2 separate regions of the Homo sapiens genome follow, and region 2 is linked to region 1. The links come from fine-mapping of genetic effects on gene expression. Tissue or cell type: whole blood. Region 1 holds a variant in brackets; the other region holds the start of a gene. All regions are shown on one strand. Distances are between the middles of the regions.

Region 1 (8,159 bases):
TGTAAGGAAGCGGTGGCGGCTGGTGAAGCAAGTCTCACATGTCGGCGTTCTTGGCCAATGGATACAAAGATAAAGAAAATGTTGCCTTTTTCTAGGAACTGTCAGAAATCCTCATGCCTTTCAAGACTTCTGTGAATGACTTGAATTTTTTATTCCCTGCCTAGGGTCTGTGAACGAGGCCTGTCTCTTCCCTGGGGTTTCTTTCCATGGCCTTTATTTCTCCTCTTCCAGTGGGAGTTTTGCAGGCTCTTCTCTGTGGAAACTTCACGAGCGTTGGCTGGGCCTCGGCTTCGCTGGAGTGTACTCCAGGGTGAAGGCAGAGTGGGATTTGAGACCCAGGTTAGGCACGACCCAGGCTGAGAAGGGACGTTTCCATCATTCACAGTGCCCTCCCCACAGCACTACCTCACCCCGACCCCCACCCTCACTCCTACCCCACCCCGCGATCGTCAGGGGTGCCACGGTGGGCCGGAGGGTGCCGGCTCTGGCTGTCCCTGTGCCGGTCCCTCACAAACCTCTCCCCCTTTGAAACTCAAGCACAGCTGCGAGGAGGGCAGCGAGGAGGGACCCCTCTCTCATGGTTGTCTCTTTCCCCCGCTATGTCATAGGTAGTGGAGGAAGCGAAGGAAGTGAACGCTGAATGTGACGCATTTCTGAAGAGCTCAGCTGTCACCGGGCATAGCCTGGAAGCCCCAAGTCTGTTCTGACTTTGCCTGGCTGTCTCCTTGACCCGCCTCCTAGATCATTGTCCTTGATGTCCAGGCTGGGTCATTTAAAATAGAGATGCAATCAGGAAGGTTGGGGGACTTGGGACTGTGGCTGAATTGAGACCTTGCTGATGTATTCATGTCAGCACCTGAGTCACAGCCCAGGTGCCCGGAAGCAGCCTCTTCGCATAGGCAGTGATTTGCGATTACTTTAAAGCTCACCTTTTTTCTTCCCCTCTCTGTTCGCTGCTGTCAGCATAATGATTGTGTTCCTTCCCTATGGGATCCATCTGTTTTGTAAACAATAAAGCGTCTGAGGGAGTGTAGTTTTCTGTCTCCCGGTCTGTGCTGACTGTTTGCAGAGGCCTGGCCACGAGAGCGCCTGCGCAGGATGCTGGGCATGCGCACGGGAGTCGCCCGCCAGGGCATCCCATCTGGAAACTGCGTCCTCCAGTCCGCCTTGTCCCACTATCTCAAGGCGCTCCAAGAGCACGAGCGCTGTGGTCAGAAAGGTGGGGTCTGAAGCCACTGCAAGCCCGATCCTGGCTCTGTCCCCATCCAGCTGCATGTCCTTAGGCAAATGACCTAACTTTCCTGTGCTTCAGTGTCCTCGTCTGCAAAAGGATGCTCATCGCAGAGCTCATCCCGGGGCTGCAGTGAACGGTAAGTGACTGGGTACGCGCAAGGGGCTTAGAACATCACCTGACGTGTGCTGGGCACCCACGTGCCCGTTTTGTTGCTGCTCATCCCTGGGGAGCCATCTGGATGACTTGGTAAGGAGGCGCTCAGGTGAGAGGTCAGGGCTGAGCTGGTGTCTTTAGTGTGTCAGTGAGTCCACAGGAACAGACGAGGTCGCTCCAAGTGACGCATGGAAGAATCCCCATCACTGAAACCACAGGCGCCAGGGAGGCAGGCACTGGCCAAGAAAGACCTCAACTAGAGACAGGACAGGGGCGGCCAGAGAGGGACAGAAAACCGGGAGAGCGGAATCAGAAAGGGCAATTGCACCCACATCGACCCCTTACCCTTCAGACCCACTCTCCTTCCCCGCCTCCTCCGGGTCCCAGACCCAGTGAACCTCCTCAGTGCCCTCTGGGATGGCCCCTGGGGAGTCCCTGACTCTCTCTGGCACTCGCCTCTCAAGGCAGCCCCCTGGTGCCACTCCCAGTGTCTGGGCTGAGTCCCCTCCCCTGGTCTCTTCTGGCCTGGGAGTGTGACATGGGAGTGACAGCTCCACTGTTAGCAGCTCCAGATGCTACAGCGGCCCCTCGTGCCGCCCGCACGCCCTGCTGTCTCATCCGTGGTAAATGGTCCCTTCACTGAAGCCTCCTTAGATGATCTTCATTCGGGTGTCGTCTTTTCCTGCTGGGAGCCTGACCAAGACAGCGCTGCAGGGAGGCGGCCTCTGCAGAAGGACCAGCGCGGCAGCGGGGTCCCCAGAGAGACTCCATGACTGAGCAGCAAGGAGAACTGGGCGTTCTCGGCGAGGATCCACAGAACAACAGTTCCAGAAAAAGCCAGGGCGCATCGGGCCGCGGCGGGTTGGGATAAGGAACCGCATGTAAGCTCTTGACCATCTGTTTAAGAAGCTGTGACATGCGGGACTCGTGGGGCAGTGACTGCCGGCTCCACACTCATGGGTCCGGCACACAGCTCATCTGCAAATGGAAGACTCTCCAGTCACCTCAACTGGACAAAAAAACGAGATTCAGTTTCTTTCATTCCACGTGTTAATCCTGTATTCCAGTATACTTTTTTTCTTTTCTTTTTTTTATTTTGGGGGGATGGAGTCTTGCTCTGTCTCCCAGGCTGAAGTGCAGGGACACGATCTTGGCTCACTGTAACCTCCATCTCCCAGGTTCAAGCAATTCTTCTGCCTCAGCCTCCCAAGTAGCTGGGATTACAGGCGTGCGCCACCACGCCCGGCTAATTTTTGTGTTTTTAGTAGAGATGGGGTTTCTCCATATTGGCCAGGCTGGTCTCAAACTCCTGATCTCAAGTGATCCATCCGCCTTGACCTCCCAAAGCGTTGGGATTACAGGCGTGAGCCACTGCACCCAGCCATGGTACACTATTTTATTTTATTTTATTATTTTATTTTATTTTATTTATTTTATTTTATTTTATTTATTTTATTTTATTTATTTTATTTTATTTTATTTTAAGACGGAGTCTCGCTCTTTCGCCCAGGCCAGACTGCAGTGGCACTATCTCGGCTCACTGCAAGCTCCGCCTCCCGGGTTCACGCCATTCTCCTGCCTCAGCCTCACGAGTAGCTGGGACTACAGGCTCCCGCCACCGTGCCCGGCAAATTTTTTGTATTTTTAGTAG[A/G]GACGGGGTTTCACCATGTTAGCCAGTTTGGTCTCGATCTCCTGACCTTGTGATCTGCCCGCCTCGGCCTCCCAAAGTGCTGGGATTACAGGTGTGAGCCACCGCGCCCGGCCCACGGTACACTTTAAATTGATAAATCTCAAGGTAAGTTATCCCTTCATGCTGTTAAAAGAGTTAAAGCAAAAATAAAATACCGTCACACTGTGAAAACCCCTGGCCCAGATGGCTTCACTTTTGAATTGTACCAAACATGTAAGGGAGAAATAATACGAAAGCAACACAAAATCTTCCATGATTCTGGGAGTTGGGAAACTTTTCCAACTCATTTTATGAGGGCACCACTATACTGATACCAAAACCAGAAAAATACATTACAAAAAAAAAAAATACAGACCAGTATCCCTCATGAACATAGATGTAAAAATCCTGGCCAGGAGCAGTGGCTCACGCCTGTAATCCCAGCACTTTGGGAGGCCGAGGCGGGTAGATCACGAGGTCAGGAGATTGAGAGCATCCTGGCTAACACAGTGAAACCCCATCTCTACTAAAAAATACAAAAAAGTTAGCCGGGCACAGTGGCGGGCACCTGTAGTCCCAGCTACTCGGGAGGCTGAGGCAGGAGAATGGCATGAACCCAGGAGGCAGAGCTTACAGTGAGTCGAGATCGCGCCACTGCACTCCAGCCTGGGTGACAGAGCGAGACTCCGTCTCAAAAAAAAAAAATAAATAAAAATAAAAAATAAAAAAAGAATCCTTAGCACAGATTAGCAAGCCAAATTCAGCAATAATCAAAAATTAGAATGTTACCGGAAAGGGGTCTGATTCAGGTCACCAAGAGAGGGTTCTTGGAGCTCACACAAGAAATAATTCTGGGCACGTCCATAGAGTAAAGTGACAGCAAGTTTATTAAGAAAGTAGGCCAGGTGCGGTGGCTCACGCCTGTAATCCCAACACTTTGGGAGGCTGAGGCAGGCAAATCACGAGATCAGGAGTTGGAGACCAGCCTGACCACATGGTGAAACCCCATCTCTACTAAAAATATAAAAATCAGCTGGGCGTGGCGGTGCATGTCTGTAATCCCAGCTACTCAGGAGGCTGAGGCAGGAGAATCGCTTGAACCTGGGAGATGGAGGTTACAGTGAGCCGAGATCGCGCCACTGCACTCCAGCCTGTGCGATGGAGTGAGACTCCATCTCAAAAAAAAAAGTAAAGGAATAAAGAATAGCAACTCTAAAGGCAGAGTAGCTCCAGGGCTGCTGACTGTCCCTTTTTATGGTTATTTCTTGAGGATATGCTAAACAAGGGGTGGATTCTTCATGCCTCCCGTTTTTAGACCATAGAGGGTAACTTCCTCATGTTGCCATGGCATTTATCATGGTGCTTGCAGGAGCATAGCAGTGAGGACAGCCAGAGGTCACTCTCATCGCCGCTTGATTTTGGTGGGTTTTAGCCGGCTTTACTGCAGCCTGTTTTGTTGTTGTTGTTGTTTTTGAGATGGAGTCTCATTCTGTTGCCCAGGCTGGAGTGCAGTGGCACAATCTCAGCGCACTGCATCCTCCGACTCCCAGGTTCAAGCGATTCTCCTGCCTCAGCCTCCCGAGTAGCTGGGATTACAGTCGTGCGCCACAACACCCTGCTAATTTGTATATTTTTAGTAGAGATGGGGTTTCACCATGTTGGCCAGGCTGGTCTCAAACTCCTGACTTCGCGATTCGCCTGCCTCGGCCTCCCAAAGTGCTGGGATTACAGGTGTGAGCCACTGCGCCCGGCCAGCCTGTTTTATCAGCAAGGTATGACCTGTATCTTGTGCCAACCTTCTGTCTCCAGTGACTAAGAATGCCTTAACCTCCTGGGAATGCAGCCCAGCAGGTCTCAGCCGTAATTTACCCAGACCTGGTTCAAGATGGAGTGGCTCTGGTTCAAACGTCTCTGACAAGAATACTTCACGATAGGTGTGGTTTATTCTAGGAATACAGGGTTAGTTCAGTATTCTGAAATCAATCAATGAAATTCATATGAAGACTAAAAAGGGGCAGGGTGTGGTGGCTCATGCCTGTAATCCCAGCACTTTGGGAGGCTGAGGTGGGCATTTGAGGTCAGGAGTTCGAGACCAGCCTGGCCAACATGGTGAAACCCCGTCTCTACTAAAAACACGAAAAATTAGCTGGGGGTGGTGGGGCGCACCTATAGTCCCAGCTACTTGGGAGGCTGAGGCAGGAGAATCGCTTGAACCTGAGAGGCGGAGGTTGCAGTGAACCGACATCATCCCATTGCTCTCCAGCCTGGGCGACAGAGCGAGACTCCATCTCAAAAAAAAAAAAAAAAAAAAAAAAGACTAAAAAGGGGGAAAAGCATGATAATCTCAAAAGATAGAGAAAAAGCATTTGACAGAATCTAACAGCCATTCACCCAATCCAATTCTAAACAAAAAGCCAAAAAACCCGTTAGGGAACATCCTTAACCCGATGAAGGGCTCCGGTGAGAAGTCCACAGCTAAGCTCCTACTTCACGGTCAGACACTGAATGCCTTCCCCCTGAGGAACAACGCAAGAGTGTCTGCTTTCACCACTTTCTTCCCCACCATTTTTTCCTTTGAAATAAAATTTTGAACCACACAGAAGTTGCAAAAATACAGTAGGTCCTATGAAAGGAAAATAAAAACCGCAATGCACCCTTCCAATAGGAAAAAACAGGAAGCTGAGAGCTGAGTCATGCAAGCAGCTGCCTTTCCTCTTGTTCCTAAGCAGAGAGCGACAGAGGAAAGGCTAAAGACCTCGGCAGGTAGCTACTGTGCTCACCTTATCTTATGTGAAGTGCCAATTTACTGAGCACCAGATGAATACACGATTGACTGTTCCCCTGCCTGCTTCTCTTCTCTTGCAACCCGTGGCGGCAGCACTAGGACCGGACCCTCCCACTTCCCCCTCCAGCCTGCTTTTCCCCTTTAAATATGGAAGCCCTCAAAGTCACCTTTGGAGAAAGGCACAGACCACAGACTGTTTCAGCGATTCCGTGTTTTGTCACGTTTTGTTTTGCCTCCCTGGCCTTATCCTTGACCTTGGCAAAATTAACTGGTTGAGAACAGTCTCAGATACTTTTTGGTTCATATCCCCCTTCTGTGGGGGATACATTCCAAGACCCGCAGTGGATGCCTGAAACCATAGATAATGTGGAATTTACTGTTCTACATTCATACCTGCGATAAAGCTTAATTCATAAATTAGGCACAGTAAGAGATTAACAGTAACATAGTAAATAGAACAATTAGAACAATAGTCTAAAATAAGAGTTATGTGCATGTGGTCTCTCTCTAAATATCTTAGTGTACTGTACTCGCCCTTGTGATGAAGAAGGGAAAGAGCAGGATGACACAATATTTCATCCCACTAGGAACAGTATGCAATTTAAAACTTATGAATTATTTCTGGAATCTTCCATTTAATATTTTCAGACCTCAGTTGACCGTGGGTAACTGAAACTGCAGTAAGTGAAACTGCAGATAAGCGGGGCCAGCAGTCGTGTTTCTGTGCAGCATTCATGTGGCTCCCTCCAGTGTACTGATTACCTAAGCACAGTACATTTACCAAACCCAGGAAACTGACATTGCTCTCATCACTTTTATTCCTCATCCTATTGGTGCAAAAGAAAAAAAAAGGAAGTTATTCAGATTTGAAAAGAAGGAATAGAACTATCTTTATTCGCCAGTGACAAGCTTTGACTAGCTAGACAAGCCTAAGAAATCTTCAAAAAATAACTACGAGGCTAGGCATGGTGGCTCACGCCTTTAGTAATCCCAGCACTTTGGGAGGCTCAGGCAAGAGAATCACTTAAGCCCAGGAGTTCAAGACCAGCCTGAGCAACATAGCAAGACCCTGTCTCTACAAAAAAATGTAAAGATTAGCTGGATGTGGTCACGCCTGCCTGTGGTCCCAGCTACATGGGAGGCTGAAGTGGGAGGATCACTTGAGCCCAGGAGATTGGGGCTGCAGTTAGCAGTATTTGTACGACTATACTCCAGCCTGGGTAACAGAGCGAGACTCTGTCTCAAAAAAACCACGAAACTACACATACTAAATTTAATATATTAATATTTAATATATATTAATATGTTAAATTTAATACATTAATATTTAACATATTAATATATTAATTCCACATACAAAATTTAACTTTATTATAACTGCAGTGAACAACTAGAAATTGTAAAATTTTTAAACATTGTCAATTACAGTAGCACCAAAAATCGGGAAATAGTTACGTATAAGTCTAACAAAAGATGTGTGACATCTACATCCTGAAACTACAAAACACTGATGAAAGAAATCAGAGACTCAAAAGAACAAAACAGTATACGTCTTCATGGGTCTACAGACTTGATTTTGAAAAAGAAAAGCAAAGTTGAAGGACTTATACTATCTGGCTTCAAGACTTAATATAATGCTGTAAGTAATCAAAACAGTGTAGTATTGCCATAAGAAAAACAGACACCGACAAGTGAGACAGAATAGGGTCCAGAAATAGACCCTTATGGATGTGGCCCATTGACTTTTGACAAAAGAGCCAGGGTAATTCACCTGAAATACAAAAGACTGTCTTCCCACCATGGTGCTGGGACAACCCTGTGAACCCTGAAAATTTGAGACAGGCCTCAGTTAATTTACTTTATTTTATTTATTTATTTATTTATTTGGGACAGAATCTCTCTCCTGACAGGCTGTAGTGCAGTGGTGTGATCTTGGCTCACTGCAACCTCTACCTCCCAGGTTTAAGTGATTTTCCTGCCTCAGCCTTCCGAGTAGCTGGGATTACAGGTGTGCACCACCACACCCAGCTCATTTTTTATATTTTCGGTATTGATGGGGTTTCACCATGTTGGCCAGGCGGGTCTTGAACTCCTGACCTCAAGTGATCTGCCCTCCTCACCCTCCCAAAGTGCTGGGATTACAGGCGTGAGCCACCGCGCCCAGCCGGGCTCAGTTAATTTAGAGTTTATTTTGCCAAGGTTGAGGACGTGGGCGCCCCTGACACAGCCTCAGGAGGGCCTGGCAGTGTGTGCCCAAGGTGGTCAGGGCACAGCTTGGTTTTATACATTTTAGGGAGATATAAGACATCAATCAACAC
Region 2 (8,177 bases), 22 kb before region 1:
CTTTGCATGAGTGTACTATTGATGTCAAATTCAATTCCTAGTAAAACTTTACAGACAAATTTTCCTAACTTCAATCAGTTTGACCATAATGTAAGATTTTCATAAAGCTTTTATAACCCTTTACAATTTTTTTTGTTAAAGAGTAGACCAATGCTCTAAGAAAACCCTGTTGTGCTTTTATTCCAATGTTCAATTTATGGAAAAACCAAATAATACTCCTTTAACTTTAGCCAATATGTTAACACAGAGAATTGCTTTTACAAGATTAGACTTTCACAAACCTTCCACGACTTGCTTAGACCTTCCGCTTTCTCCTATCTAAGAACAACTCTTTAAACTTCCAAACCAGGCAAAAACACCCTGCCTTCCCATGCCTTCTTATAATCTTTTACCAAACACACATTATACTTTCCTTACACACTGTGCATGTAAAAGTGTTCCTCCAGTAACCTCAGTTACATATGGTACAATGTTAACTCTTAGCAACTTTTATTTTTGGCGAAAAATTTGGTAAGTGATTTTATTTGTGTACCAGGTGTAGAGCTTGGGGCACCAGACAAAAGTGCAGATAAGGTCTGACCCCTTCCAGCATAGCTAGGGGCATGGCTAACTCCATATGTTCCCAGGCCTTACATAGACGCTAATGGCTCCAAAGAAGGTAAATTGAACAATTATCAAAAGTCAGAGAAGTAGTTTAGTAAACCTAGTATCTGACCTGCCTAATTTAGACCAAATGTCTAAATTTCAAAGACATTTTTATTTTACCAATAATCTTTAAAACTGCCTTGCTTTTCCAAAGATGACTAAAGTCATGTGAACAAAAAGGCATTAGCATTTTAATTTTTCTGGCAAAATATTTTATTTAAGTGCTTATTTTTATTTAAGCCAATTAAATAGAGCTCTTTTATATATTTTGGTTGTAAAACATGACTCACAGGGATGGTACAGACCAAGAGAAAATACCCCTCCATGGTCACAAGTCAAGCTCCCAAGGACATAAAACAAGACGAGGGGGAATCCTCATCCAGTTTTTGTTTCAGTGACCTGAAGCAAAGTTGTCAACTGACCAGTTTGCTGGGCCAGCTTGAATAGTGGGCTTACAGGGGTCCTAGGGCCACATTCTATCCTATGATACCCCTTTTATGACAGAATGACACAGAAAGCCAAATTCATAGCACAAAGTACACCAGATTCATCACAGCCTAAGACTAGCCTCACAAATCCTTTTTCCCATTCATCAAAACCTTGCAGAGGAGACAGTGATTTTTACCATTCACTCAACTGGTTTGCATAGAGAGAGAGAGACCAAAGGCCTGACTGGTAAGAAATTCTTACCCTTTTGCCAGCATGCCAGGTTTCTGGGATCCCTTTCCCTAAGCAGCCCTCGTGACCCTGCTCACAGCACCATAACTGTGGGGGCCAAGCCACATCGCAAAGCAAAAATCACCCTTTTCCATTTCATGGAACCATAGGAAAAGCCTCTCAATTTTGCAAGATGCTACACAACAAGTTGCATGGAGGAATCGAATCAACATTTTCCATTCTGGCCAGAACAAAGTGCACTTGACAAAACACAGACACTAGCCACCCCCCTCAGCACCCAATATCGACCTGGCAAGGCTCAAAACTTCCCCCATTGGCCCCTGTAGTGTTTAATCCATTCAAAGTGGGGGCGGAATGACTGCCAACCAGGAGTTTCAACAGGTGGTTTTTGGGCAAGATGGAAGAGTAGATCATCACCCAGAGTGACAGAGAAGACAGACAAGGGAAAGGCGAGAACGAGAGAGAGGAAAGGGAAGGGAGAAGAGTGTTGCCTGTGGTGGGTTGCAGAGGTGAGGAGCTCACAGAAGCCAGAGAAAGACCCATCCATCACAGTGACACTGAATCAAAAGTTCAGACAGCTGCTTGTCAAAAAGGGATCTTTTCCAGCAGTCCCATCAGCTCTCAAGTTTTCCCCTTTGGGGGAGGAAAAAAAGCTCCCCAGGTCCCATGATCCTGCACATGCCTAATCTTGTCACCCACAGCCATCAGCAAAGAGGGCATGGCAAATTAATCCAAATAGAATGGCGGTTAACATCCTGCAGTGCTGAATCCATTTTTAACCAAGAGGGCTCTTACTAAGGGTGGCCTCTAACATTCTGAAGTTGAGCCTTCAACCCAAGTTTGAACAAGCATTCTTGTTCTTTACAAAGAGGGGCCTCTAACTCCCTGTGTCTTAGGAGGGACTCTAACTCTCCTAATTTGGGCCTCTAACCCAATTCCATCCATTACCCTGGATAAAATACCCCACCATGTACCCAAAGTTGGTCAACTGGTGCTGAAGTCTATTTCCCTTGGGTCAGAGGTCTCTCCAGTGTTGTCCCTTCATGGTTTCTCAGCAAGATGTTATCAGAAAGGGGTTCCAGTCCAGGCCCCAAGAGAGGGTTCTTGGATTTTCCACAAGAAAGAATCTGGGGCAAGTCCGCAGAGTAAAGTGAAAGCAAGTTTATGAAGAAAGTAAAGCAATAAAAGAATGGCTACTCCATGGGCACAGCAGCCACAAGGGCTGCTGGTTGGCTATTTTTATGGTTATTTCTCGCTCATATGATAAACAAGGGGTGGATTATTCATGAGTTTTCTGGGAAAGGGGAGGAGATTTCCTTGGAACTGAGGGTTCTTCCCCGTTAGAACATCTAGGGTAACTTCCTGACGTTGCCATGGCATTTGTAAATCATCATGGTGCTGGTGGGAGTGTCTTTCAGCATGCTAATACATTATAATTAGGGTATAATTAGCAGCAAGGACAGCCAGAGGTCACTTTCATTGCCATCCTGGATTTGGAGGGTTTTGACCAGCTTCTTTACTGCATCCTGTTTCATCAGCAGGGTCTCTGTGACCCGTATCTTGTAACCTCCTATCTCATCCTGTGACTAAGAATGCCTAATTTCCTGGGAATGCAGCCCAGCAGGTCTCATTTACCCAGCCCTTATTCAAGATGGTGTTGCTCTGGTTCGAAGGCCTCTGAGAGAGCCACTGGATCTCTCAATTATTGCATACAGTTTTATTTCATTTTATAAAGGTTAAAATAGACAGAATTAAACAATATATTGTTTAGGGATACATACCTATGTGCTAAAATTATAAAGTAAGGCAACAGAATGATTAACACAACATTCAGTATTGTGGCTACCACCTCTTGGGGGTAGCAGGGAGTACAGAACAGGAAGAACCTGGAGAGTTTTAAAGATGCAGGAATAATGTGTTATTTCTTAAGCTGGAAGGCACATGTGGATCTTTTAGAAAATAAAAGATTCAAATATAATTGTCACATGCGTCCATGTGAAGAGATTCCACCAACGGGCCTTGTGTGAGCAACAAGACTGTTTATTTCACCTGGGTGCAAGTGGGCGGAGTCCGAGAAAGGAGTCAGCAAAGAGTAGTGGGATTATCATTAGTTCTTATAGGTTTGGGATAGGTGGTGGAGTTAGGAGCAATTTTTTGTGGGCAGGGGGTGGATCTCACAAAGTACATTCTCAAGGGTGGGAAAAATATTACAAAGTACCTTCTTAAGGGTGAGGGAATATCACGAAGTACATTATCCTAAGGGTGGGGAGGGTGTATTGTCATAAGGTCAATTGATCAGTGAGGGTGGGGCAGGAACAGATCACAATGGTGGAATGTCATCTTTTGTGGTTCTTCAGTTGCTTCAGGCCATCTGGATGTATATGTGCAGGTCACAGGGGATATGATGGCTTAGCTTGGGCTCAGAGGCCTGACAATAATGAGTATTATGTGAGACATGGTTGGGACTCAGTTTAGCATGACAAGAAACATTAATGAATTCAAGAAAGGTTTGTCTCCTCTCCAAAATCAAAAACCAAAAGTGCATAACAGTGTTTAGCACATTTCTATTTAGTTAAAGGTAATTTAAGATACGTGTTTATGACTTGTTTGGATACCATATAACATCTAGTGATCGCCTCTGGGCAGGGAATACAGAACGGCAATGGGAGGCTTATTTTTCATTGCGTACCATTTATATAATTTGAATTCCTCCTCTTGTGTATCTTTTACTGAACGGAAGGTTTTGAGAGAGCTGGGGGAAGTAGCTGGTATCAAGCAGGAAAGCTGAAGGTGCAGATGGGCAGGGGGCTGGTGCACCCTTCTGCCAAGCTCTCCTGCCAGAGGCTCCACGGCCACCAGGCCTTTCTCAGAACTTTGGGATGGAGGAGGGCGGGGCCGGGGAAGCCTTTTAACAGAGTGCCCTAAAATATCTCGGGGGCTAGGGCTACGGAGGGGAAAGGAGAAATCAGAGACCCTTGTTTGGCAGGTTTGTCAACTGCAGATTTTTTGCAGGGAAACACCCCACCGTCCCCACCCCAGGACACTACAGCCTTAGACCTCCCTGATCCTGGCTTTGGCAACTGGTCAGCAGCACTCTGGAGGCGGCTGTTTTGAAGGGCCAAGGAGAGGGGCTGCCTGAGAATGAGGATGGCAGAAAGGGGCCCACGGTTTTCCGCCTCCCAAGACTACGAGGGTCGGGAGGCCCATGTAAGGGGGCCCTCGCTCGGAGAATGAGAACTTCCCTCCCTAGTAGCCTTCACCCCCCTCAATGCCTCCCACCCCAAAAGATCTGCTGGGCCCACGTTCCAGCGCAACGCGGTGGAAGACGGCCCTCATGTGCCAGTGCGGACCCTCGCGCCCCTCCAGCCTGCAGCCAGCCGGCCGCTCCTCCAGCGCGCAGGCGCAGGACGGAAAAAAAAAACACAAAAAAACAACAAAAAAAAAACCCAAAAAAACACAAACCACAGCTCCCAGCAGCCCTCGCGCCGTCCGCGCGCAGCCGCAGAGCAGAGGCTGCCGGGAACGCGGGCCCAGAGGCGGGGCGAGCGCGCGCGGGGCGGAAGTCGGCCACCTTCCTCCGTCCCGGCCGTTAGCCCAGCCAAGCCCAGCCAAGCCCAGCCAAGCCCCGCCGATCGCGGGCACCGGAGCCAGCCCCGCAGCGGGTGAGTGACTGCGCCCGCGGCCGCCGGCGCCCTGCCCCAGCCACGGGCCCGGACCCCCGTCCCGGAGCCTGCCGCCGCCCTCCGACCCTGCCGCGTCCCGCCCCCTGACCCGTCAGGCCCCCTTCCCGTCCCACCCGTGCGGGATCTCTGCCCCCTGACTCGCAGACTGGGCTGGGACTCTGCCCTCTGACCTGTGGGAAAGTCCCCTTCTTCCGACAGGCGGTGGACACCACCCCCTCTGACTTTTGGGACACCTCATCCCTGGGACTAGCGTGGGGACCATTACCCTCTGGTTAGTGTGGGCACCCCTCCTCTCTAATTAGTGTGGGGACCATTCCCCTCTGATTAGTGTGGGCACCTCCCCCCTCTGATTATGTGACTCCTCCCCGCTCTGATTAGTGTGGGACACCCCCCTTCTAATTAGTTTGGGGACCATCCCCCTCTGATTACTGTGGGGCACCTCCCCGCTCTGATTAGTGTGGGGACCACCCCCCTCTGATTCATGTGGGGCACCTCCCCCTCTGGTTAGTGTGGGGACCATCCCCCTCTGATTAGTGTGGGACGCCTCCCCGCTCTGGCTAGTGTGGGGCACCCCTCCTGGGAATGACCCCCTCCCACCACCTTCTGACTTCAAATACCCCTCCTCTGGTCTATGCAGGGTCTCCTTGGACTGATAAGGGAATTTTCTCCCTCTGACTGGCACTTGGTCAAACCTGTAACAGGCCAACCTTCCCCACCCCATCCCAGTCCTTGCTCTCCCTGCCCTCATCCAATTTGGAGCCTTCCTCCAGGCACACAGCTCACTCTCATCTTCCTGCATGCAAATGATTCGCCCTCCCCACCATACCTGTCTCACACCCCTACTGCCATCCGGTCTGGATTCTCTCATCCTTGGAGACTGGTACCTCCTTGCCAGTCCATGTTGCCTGGTGCCTTTGCTTCTCCCTCCGAATGGTCTTTCCCTTGCCCTCTGTGTACCCTAGGCTTGGCACAGAGCACCTGTGACCACTCTTCCATCAGCAGACACATCTCTCTCCCAAACACCTTTCCCCCTTAGTGACCCCTGGAAAAGCCGTCTCTTAGTGTCCCAGCTCCATTTCTTATTTTATTCTTGAGGTTGTATGCCCTATGGCCTTTCCTACCACATTTTCAACAAAGCAGAGGTTTGGAAATGTGAGGCTCTTGGTGTCAAGTGAATCCGGCTAGCTCTCCAGTGTAAGGGCCCAAACTTGAAACAAGTGTCAGGTCGTAGAAGGCTCCTAAAAGGAAGCGGGTGCCGCAGCCCTTCAGGATCCGCTATCTCCCAGCTCTTCCTCCCTCTCCCTCTGAGGAGCTTTGCTGAGAAAGGTCCCTCCAGGCCTGGACCACAGACCCTCCCTGCAGCCCCACCGCAGGCCTCTCAGCAGGACAGTCTGGCTGGAGCCTGTGGAACGGCAGTGGGGCTCCTCCCAGGTGCTCCTCCCTGCTGGCCTCAATGAGCCCTCTATCCTAGCACACGCCCCTGCTGAAAGGCACACTGAAGGAGCCAACCCTCTCCCCTCTGGACGTGGCAAGGGTTTCCTGTCGGGGCAGCCCCAGGCATCTTCACGGCCAGGACTCAGGTGAAGCATGGATTTGTCCAGGCACTGTCATGAGGCCACCGCAGCAGTGTGGGGACCAACTTCTAGTGTCACTTTTTCATGTCCAAATTAACGTGATCACAAAAGAGAATGACATGTCACAAGGTGGTAGAGGGAACCCTCCACTCGCAGCGGGATAGGACCCCTGGACCCTGGGACACCTCGCTGGAGGGGCACATCTGAGGCTTGACGCTTCTGATTGCCAGAGGTCTCCTTTCTTCCCCTTAGGCTATAACCATATTTTCCTAGCCCATGGCAGCTTAGTAAATGTGTTGGTGTAAAAGCTCTTGGTACTCCAGAACGTTTTCACTCACCCGTCACTGTGCACCTGGTCTGCAGGACCCCCCTGAGCTGCAGAGTACGTGAGGAGACCCAGGGTGTGGTAGCAGCAGTTCTCCTGGCCCTGTGGGTGTTTTTACCCTGCCACCTGGATGTGGCTTTCGAGGTGTGTGTGCCTGTGCAGGCTCCCCCAAGTACATATGGCCCGTCCTCGGAGTCTCGGTACTTTCTGGCAACCGTATAGGTAGATAGGTAGATGTATAAATGCTGTAGTGTTTTCTCTTTCAAAAACAGAAGATCTGAGACTTGGAACTATTGTCCAGGTCCTGAAATGGGTCAGTACTATCACAAGGAGGTCATTTTTCTATTGTTTGTTGAATGGTACCAGGGATGCCAAGGACACACAGCATTCATTCTTTTCACTCAGTGCACTCTGAACTATCGAGATTTCCTGGAAAGCTCTTATGAAATGCCAATATCAAGGGAATTAGAAACTTTTATATTAATTCTTAAGAATGTTCATGTTGATTTTCCTTTTACTTTAATCAAGATGGTTAATTAGGAAAAAATCATCCTGGCAGTAGAGAAGTCTGTTTGGGGAGACGTTCTGTTTTTTGTTTTGGACCCTGCTCGTCTTTGTCATGCGTGCAGTGGTCATGTGGAGCGCCTGGTTCCCAGGCAGGACGCTGCTCCCCGCGTTCCTCTGGGATGGTTTTATGGGAAGTGAAGAAGGCGTTGAAGTCTGGCTTAAGACTTAAGACAGTGCGTGATGCCACCATGTGGGAGTGGGGCAGAGGTGAGACTGGGACCCCCCAGAATGGCTCTGAGGGTGTTGCCGGGTTGAGTGAAAGTCCTGGCGATTCGGCCTTTGTGTCCCGGGAGCCGAGCCTGGAGGAAAGCGTGAGGAGAGAAGGTGGCAGTAAGCAGGTGGGCTCGTGCAGGTGCCACCGCGGTGTGGAAGGCAGCCCTGATCCAGGTCCATGGGGCGATGATCCCATCCCGTTATTTTCACACACTCTGGAAAAGGACACCTTCCCAGATGTGTGGTGCCATTTGGAATGTGCCTTTCAACTGAGAAGGTCGCCTTTTGGCTAAAATTCCTCCAGGTGTAACATCGATGATACAAATTAAGCAGACACAGCCTCTTTACAAGGCAGTAACTGCAAACCGTAGAGGGTTCTGAAGCTGTGCGCCCACACCATAGACAGTGACTGGTCCTGGCCCTTGGAAAAACCTGGAGGCTCTTTCCCCTCTTCCTCCTGTGATTGGTGGAGGAACAGCTCCCCGAGATGTC

The links. PIP is the estimated chance that this variant, and not a neighbour inherited with it, causes the effect.
Region 2: CANT1 starts here. The variant in region 1 is fine-mapped to the expression of CANT1 in whole blood (TOPMed, PIP above 0.99).

What each region holds. Positions count from the first base shown.
Region 1 is chr17:78,984,590-78,992,748 of GRCh38, reverse strand. CANT1 (calcium activated nucleotidase 1) reads left to right here. Exons shown (of 5, transcript NM_001159773.2): 5 at 1-1,033. Among named protein-coding and RNA genes, the nearest start is that of LGALS3BP, 8.7 kb to the right of the region's middle. The variant A/G (reference allele first, on the strand shown) is at 3,039.
Region 2 is chr17:79,006,472-79,014,648 of GRCh38, reverse strand. It overlaps CANT1 (calcium activated nucleotidase 1), which reads left to right and starts at 4,885. Exons shown (of 5, transcript NM_001159773.2): 1 at 4,885-4,985. RefSeq lists an enhancer at 4,496-4,545 and a silencer at 4,786-5,165.